2 linked regions of the Homo sapiens genome follow. The protein of the gene in region 1 interacts with the protein of each later gene in a biochemical or structural test. Each region holds a gene or a part of one and is shown on either strand. Other genes may lie near its edges. The genes, in order: SARNP and DDX39A.

Region 1 (3,914 bases):
AGGTTCAAGCAATTCCCGTGCCTCAGCTTCCCGAGTAGCTGGGATTACAGGCACGTGCCACCATGCCTGGCTAATTTTTGTATTTTTAGTAGAGATGGGGTTTCACCATGTTATTGGTCCGGCTGGACTTGACTGACCTCAGGTGATCCTCTTGCCTTGGCCTCCCAAAGTGCTGGGATTATAGGCATGAGCCACCACTCCTGGCCCATACTAACACATTTGGAAAGAGAGATTGAACTGTGGATGAAAATGGCTTGAACTGTAACAGTATCAGATATCCAGTCAAACATTAGAAAAGGAACTATTGCAGAGGAGAGGAGAAAGTGATAGTAGTGTCAGAGTGTTGAGAATAGTGAGACATTTGTATTGAAAAGTGAAGTGAGGAAATATATTGGTAGTTGAAGATAGTTTGGAAAGGAAAATAGGTAAACTATAAAGGTAAATCAGAGTGATATTGAAAAGGGCTTTCTAAGTTATGTAAGGACTTCTGGCCTTTGTCATGTAAGAAGTAGGGCTGGGAGCCTTTGGAAGTTTGAAAGGAGGAGCTTGATGTGATCAGCTTGTATTCTCTTGGCGGATGGGATTTGTAGGGGGAGCGATTTCACCACTTAGATATTTATTATAGGAGTCATTCCCCTGCTTAAAACCTTTAAATTATATCCCTGCCCGTCTCTCCAGCATAGTTACTAACTCTTCAACTACTGTGGCCTTATTTTATTTAATTTCTTCAGAATGCTTCATCAATTGCCAACACTTAGCATTTGTTATGTGGCAAAGCACTGTTTGAAGCCATTTACATACACTAACTGATTTAATTCTCATAATAACCCTGTAAGGTAAATACCTGTATTATCCTCATTTGAAAATAAGAAAAACCATAGCTCAGAGAGAGTAACTGAGTAACTTGCCTTAGGTTGCACAGCTAAAATGTTGTATATTAAATCCAAGCAGGCTGGGTGCAGTGGCTCACGCTTGTAATCCCAGTACTTTGGGAGGCCGAGGCAGGCGGATCACCTGAGGTCGAGAGTTCGAGACCAGCCTGACCAACATGGAGAAACCCCGTCACTATTAAAAATACAAAATTAGCTGGGCGTGATGGCACATGCCTGTAATCCCAGCTACTCGGGGGGCTGAGGCAGGAGAATCACTTGAACCGCGTAGGTGGAGGTTGCGGTGAGCCGATATGGCACCATTGCACTCCAGCCTGGGCAACAAAAGTGAAACTCCGTCTCAAAAAAAAAAAAAAAAAAAAAATTCCAGGCAGCCTGTGTCCAAAATTCATGTTCTAATCATTGCACACTGCTTCTCCCTCTTACCTCAACCTAGAACCTTCACATATGCTGCAATTGGAGTTTTCTTTCGGCTGTAGTACTCCGGCTGCCCTTCCTCCCTAACACGTTTATCTAATTAATTACTACACCCCTTTCAGGTGTTTCACTCAAATATTATTTACCCAAGGAAGCTTTCTATGTTCTATCCACAAACATGGTCAGGCCACTTTTTATATAATTTCATAAGACCCTGTGTGTTCTTAAAAAATCAGCTAAACATGCCGGGCACGGTGGCTCATGCCTGTAATCCCAGCACTTTGGGAGGCCAAGGTGGGCAGATCACGAGGTCAGGAGTTTGAGACCAGCCTGACCAATATGGTGAAACCCCATCTCTACTAAAAATACCAAAAGTAGCTGGGCCTGGTGGCGCGCACTTGTAATCCCAGCTACTCGGGAGGCTGAGACAGGAGAATCACTTGAACCCAGGAGGCGGAGGTTGCAGGAGCCGAGATCGCGCCATTGCACTCCAGCCTGGGCAACAGAGTGAGACTCCGTCTCAAAAAAAAAAAATCAGCTAAACGCTATCTGATCATTGATTGGTTTGTTCTCTGCAAGATTGTAAGCTCGGAATGGGAAGGACTCTTATGTTTTGCTCATGATTATTTCCCTGTATCCAAGATAATACTTGATAATACAGTAGGTGCTCAATAACGATTTGTTGAGTGAATAAGCATGTCAAGACTTCAAAAGAATGGGAATGAATTTGAAAGACATTTAGGATGTAGTAGAATTTCAAGTATTTATAGATCAGTTAGATATGGGAAAAATGAAAGATGACTCCAGGGTTTGGGTAGTGATACCTTTAGTCTGGGTTGGGAGGAGGAGAAGCCAGTTTTGCACAGAAGAGGTAAGTTCATTTTGAGGCTTAGGTGTCTGTGGGACATCCACTTGGACATGTCAGGTAGTCAGTTGGAAATGTGGGTCTTTCACTCAAGAGCTGAAAGCTGATGATGAAGACTTGGGATTTATTCAGAAAATATGGAGCACCTGCCATGTCCCAGTTACTGTGGGTGCCAAAGATACAGCAGTGAACAACAGAGACAAAATCCTTGCTCTCATAGAGCTTGTATTTTACTGAGGGAAGGCAAAATAAAAAGTAAAATTTATGGTATGTCAAATAGTGATTGATAAGGCACATAGAGAAAAATAGGAGAAAGGAATAGGGAGTACAATGGGAAGGGTATTGTAATTTTAAATAGAGTGACTGGGGAAGTCATTAACAAGGAGATGTTTACAAAAAGAGTTGAAGGACGTGAAGGAATGAGCTATGTGCAAAGTGTTAGAGGAATAGCACAAGACCAGTTTGGCTTATCAGAGTGAGCAATGGTAATAAGGTAATGGTAGGGGAGGGCAAAGCTGCAGGGCCTTTTAGGTGATAGGATTCAGCCTTTTACCCTTAGTGAGATACGAAACCAATGGATGATGTTTGACTAGAGGAGTGACATGTTCTGACTTAAATTTTCAAAAGATCACTCTGTTACTTTGTTGAGAATAAACTATAGTGAGGCAAGGGCTGAAGAATTTTGACAATAATCTGTATGAAAGAAAGACTAGAGTAGTAGCATTTGCCGTGGTGAGAAGGGTTTGATTTTGGATATATTTTAAAGATAATGCTGATAGACTTTGCCGCTGATTGAAATCGGGAAGTGAATTAGCCTTTGATATATGTGGAATGACAAGACGCCCAAAGAAGGAATCTTAGTGAATATTTACAGGTTTGAGTGGAAGAAGAGCTAGCAAGGAGGCTGAGGAGGAGAGAGTGAAAGAAAGAAGTGCCAAGACTTTGGCAGTTAATATTGAGCATAAATCAGAGACACTTGAGCTGGCATATTGGTCTACTATTTACAAGCTGTGGTTTGTTTGTTTGTTTGTTTGTTTGTTTGTTTGTTTTTTGAGACAGTGTCTCGCTTTTTCTCCCAGGCTGGAGTGTAGTGGCACAATCAGGGGTCACTGCAGCTTCAGTCTTCTGGACTCAAGTGATCCACCTCAGCCCCTGCTCCCACCCAGTAGGTGGGACTACAGGGGCACACCACCACACCTGAACTGTGTATTAATTTTTTAATTTTCTGTAGAGACAGAGTCTACCCGTGTTGCCCAGGGCTGGCCTCAAACTCCTGGCTTTGAGCAATCCTCCCACCTCAGCCTCCCAAAGTGCTGGGATTACAGGCATGAGCCACCACACCTGGCCAAGCTGTGTGATATTTAAGCAAGTTATTGAATTTCTTTAAGCCTAATTGTAATACCAACCACTTAGGTTCCTTGTAAGGATTTTGAGTTCCCATCATATATGTTATAGGTGGTCTAAAACATCTCTGCCTTCAAAGAATTTACAAACTATATGTTGACATAACATGAAAAAGATGATTTCTTTTTTTTTTTTTGGGATGGAGTCTCGCTCTGTCACCCAGGCTGGAGTGCAGTGGCGTGGTCTTGGCTTGGCTCACTGCAACCTCTGCCTCCCGGGCTCAAGCCCTTCTCCTGCCTCAGCCTCCCGAGTAGCTGGGATTACAGGTGCCTGCCACCACGTCTGGCTAATTTTTGTATTTTTAGTAGAGACAGAGTTTCACCATGTTGGCCAGGCTG
Region 2 (3,914 bases), on another chromosome or scaffold:
TTTAGAGACTGGGTCTCACTCTTTCACCCAGGCTGGAGTGCAGTGGTGCAATCATAGCTCACTGAAGCCTCAAACTCCTGGGCTCGAACAGTCCTCCTGCCTCAGCCTCCCGAGTAGCTGGGAGTACAGGTATCAACCACCATGCTTGGCTAATTTTTATTTTATTTTATTTTATTTTTTGTAGAGATGAGGTCTCACTATGTTGCCTAGGCTGGTCTTGAACTCCTGGCCTTAGGTGATCACTCTTGTTGCCCAGTCTGGAGTGCAATGGTGCGAACTCGGCTCACTGCAACCTCCACCTCCCAGGTTCAAGCGATTCTCCTGCCTCACCCTCCCGAGTAGCTGGGATTACAGGCATGCGCCACCACGCCCGGCTAATTTTGCATTTTTAGTACAGACGGGGTTTCTCCATGTTGTCAGGCTGGTCTCAAACTCCTGACCTCAAGTGAACCGCCCTCCTTGGTCTCCCAAAGTGCTGGGATTATAGGCAGGAGCCCTGGTGCCCGCTGATCCTTTCTTTACTTGGCATTTTCTTTTTCTTTTCTTTTCTTTTTTTTTTTTTGAGACGGAGTCTCGCTCTGTTGCCGAGGCTGGAGTGCAGTGGCGCGATCTCGGCTCACTGCAAGCTCCGCCTCCCGGGTTCACGCCATTCTCCTGCCTCAGCTTCCCGAGTAGCTGGGATTACAGGCGCCCGCCAACACGCCCGGCTAATTTTTCTATTTTTAGTAGAGACGGAGTTTCACCATGTTGGCCAGGATGGTCTCAAACTCCTGACCTCAGGTAATCCACCCACCTCGGCCTCCCAAAGTGCTGGGATTACAGGTGTCAGCCACCACGCTCGGCCTGCAAAACCCCACCTTTACCAAATTTTTAAAAATTAGCTGGGCATGATAGGTAACAAGAGTGACACCCTGAAGAAAGAAAGAAGAAAGTGGAGGGAAAGAGGGAGGAAGGATGATAGGAAAATAAATCTGCCAGGATCTAATAAAGCTTAGTGACCATGCCACCATGCCACTCCTAAGTATTTAAAAGAAATGAAAATTTATCTTCCCCAAAATACTCTTACAGTACAAGCTCTATTAACAGTGGCCAAAGACCGGAAACAATCAATTGGCCAAGAACAGGTGAGTGAAACTATATTGGCTACATTATAGTATAGCCACACAATGAAATACCACTCAGCAGTAAAAAATAACGAGCTGTTGATATCCCCACAACATGGACAACTCTCAAAAACACTTTGCTGCGGCCAGGCAGGGTGGCTCATGTAATCCCAGCACTTTGGGAGGCGGAGATGGGCAGATCACATGAGGCCAGGAGTTCGAGACCAGCCTGGCCAACATGGCGAAACCCCTCTCTACTAAAAATATGAAAATTAGCCAGGTGTGGTGGCGGGCGCCAGCAGTCCCAGCTACTCAGGAGGCTGAGGCAGGAGAATCGCTTGAACCCGAGAGGCGGAGGTTGTGGTGAGCAGAGATCGCGCCACTGCACTCCAGCCTAGGTGACAGAGCCAGACTCCGTCTCAAAAAAACAGCTTTGTTGAGCAAAAGTCAGACACAAAAGACAACCTATTGCATGCTTCTACTAACGTGAAAATCAAGGAGACAAAACTATCGTGGAGCGATAGAAATCCAAATACTGCAAAATGTTCTGTCCATTTGAGTCATTCCAAGCTCCCTATTCTTTTCAGAGCCTACACTGTGGAGGACCCCCAGGCCGCAGATTGATAGCAACTGGGACAGTTCTGGTTTCAGCGCCCAGCGCAGACGCCACTCTTCGAAAAGGTGGGGCACACGCCAAAACGCAATCATCCGGTCTTCAGTTATCAGTACTAAACATGGCGGCTCCCACCGAGCACCACACCCAGATCACGAGACCGCGCGCTGTCGGAGCCAGTCTGTCGGCTCACTGGGGCGCGCCTACTTTTAGATTGACCAATAAACGCGAGGCGTAAGGCACGCCCTCTTTCTTCCCGTCTCCGCCAATAATCTCCCGGTCCCTTCCACAGGACCCAATCACCGCTTCGGCCTCTCTTGAATGAAAAGGCAGCGGCCCAGTCAGCAGAGCAGCAGCCCGACGCAAGAGGCAGGAAGCGCAGCAACTCGTGTCTGAGCGCCCGGCGGAAAACCGAAGTTGGAAGTGTCTCTTAGCAGCGCGCGGAGAAGAACGGGGAGCCAGGTGAGCAGCGGATCCCGGGCGCGGGGCCGCGGTGTGGGGACGTCTGAACTGAGAGCGAGAGGACGAGGGGAGACGTTGGGATCTAAGGGGAGGGGGAGAAAGGGTCGCGAGACGGTGGGGGCGGGGCGGTTGGTGTGTCAGAGCGCTGTGTGTTGGCCGTTGGGCACCGGGGCGCATGCGCTAGGGGTGGGCCAGCCGTTGGCGCGCGGTGCTCGGGGCTCGGGGCCCGCTTCTCGGAGGGGCTGTCATGGCCTACGGCGCTCCGAGCCCCACTTGGAGTCTGTCAGTTCGTCCGAATAGACCCCGCGGCGGCCTGGGGCCATTTGGAGAGGGACGAGGGGGTGACGCCGGGGTCTGGGGCCTGGGTGGGAGAAGTTGGAGCTTTCAGTTGTCAGGGGTTTCTTTGGGTCCGAGGGACTTGATCCCTTTCCCAGTCTACCTTCTTCTTGGTCTACTTTTTACGGGATTCGGGATTCTGAGATTTAGAGCAAATAAGACTTTATTTTGGAAGGCCGGGCGCGGTGGCTCTTGTAATCTCAGTACTTTGGGAGAGACCAAGGAGGGCGGATCACTTGAGGTCAGGAGTTCGAGACCAGCCTGGCCAACATGGTGAAACCTCGTCTCTACTCAAAATACAAAAAAAAATCAGCCGAGCGTGGTGGCGAGCGCCTGTGGTCCCAGCTACTCGGGAGGCTGAGGCACGAGAATCGCTTGAACCCGGGAGGTGGAGGTTACAGTGAGCCGAGATCGCGACACTGCACTCCAGCCTGGGTGACAGAGCGAGATTCTGCCTCAAAAAAAACAGAATGAAAAAAAGATTTTCTTTTGGAAATAGGAGTCCCCAGGTGGGAATAAACTCCGGGGTGGAAAGCCTGCCTGGGGACACTTGAGGGTAACTGGGTACACGTGGCGTGTCTGGGTTGTGAGTTCCCCGCTGTCACCTTTCAAGTTCATGCGCTCCTGGCGCCTTAGCGGTCATGGCCACCCACTTTGGGCGGGGAAAACCCCGCCGGATCCTTTCCTGATCTAATCAGTTTTGAGCTTTAGATCCTGTCCAGCCCGGTTTCTCGAAAATTTTATCTTAGCAGATTCGGTTCACCCCAATTTATTTATCTCTCTCTCTCTTTTTTTTTTTTTTTTTTTTTTTTTGAGACAGAGCCTTGCTCTGTCGCCCAGGCTGGAGTGCAGTGACACTATCTCGGCTCACTGCAGCCTCCGTCTTCCGGGTTCAAGCAAGCACATCCGGCTAATTTTTGTATTTGTAGTAGAGACGGGGTTTCACCATGTTGCCCAGGCTTGTCTCTAATTCCCGACTTCAAGTGATCCGCCCGCTTCGCCTCCCAAAGTGCTGGGATTACAGGCATGAGCCACCACGCTGGGCCCCAATTTCTTTTTTTAAATTTATTTTTCTTGAGAAAGGGTCTCCCTCTGTCACCCAGGCTGGAATGCCATGGCGCCATCACTGGCAGCCTCGACCTCCTGGCTCAAGCGATCCTCCCGGCACAGCCTCCCAAGTAGCTGGGACTACAGGCCCATGCCACCACACCGGGCTAATTTTTTTCTTTTTTTAATTTCTACTTATTTATTTTTTAGCCTTTGCTACATAGAAGGTGCCCCTTGGGCTATGTGTTTTTTAAGTTTTTTTAAGTTTTAGGGTACATGTGCACAACGTGCAGGTTTGTTACATATGTATACATGTGCCATGTTGGTGTGCTGGACCCGTTAACTCGTCATTT

Evidence for each region.
Region 2: the proteins of SARNP (region 1) and DDX39A form a complex in vitro, tested with the Homo sapiens proteins (2 studies listed by BioGRID).

The regions. Positions count from the first base shown.
Region 1 is NC_000012.12:55,810,880-55,814,793, reverse strand, and holds part of SARNP (SAP domain-containing ribonucleoprotein), read left to right. Parts: intron 1-3,914. UniProt on the Homo sapiens protein: Binds both single-stranded and double-stranded DNA with higher affinity for the single-stranded form. Specifically binds to scaffold/matrix attachment region DNA. Also binds single-stranded RNA. Enhances RNA unwinding activity of DDX39A.
Region 2 is NC_000019.10:14,417,534-14,421,447, reverse strand, and holds the start of DDX39A (ATP-dependent RNA helicase DDX39A), read left to right. Parts: upstream 1-2,106; 5' UTR 2,107-2,178; intron 2,179-2,395; exon of another isoform or gene 2,396-2,519; intron 2,520-3,914. UniProt on the Homo sapiens protein: Helicase that plays an essential role in mRNA export and is involved in multiple steps in RNA metabolism including alternative splicing. Regulates nuclear mRNA export to the cytoplasm through association with ECD.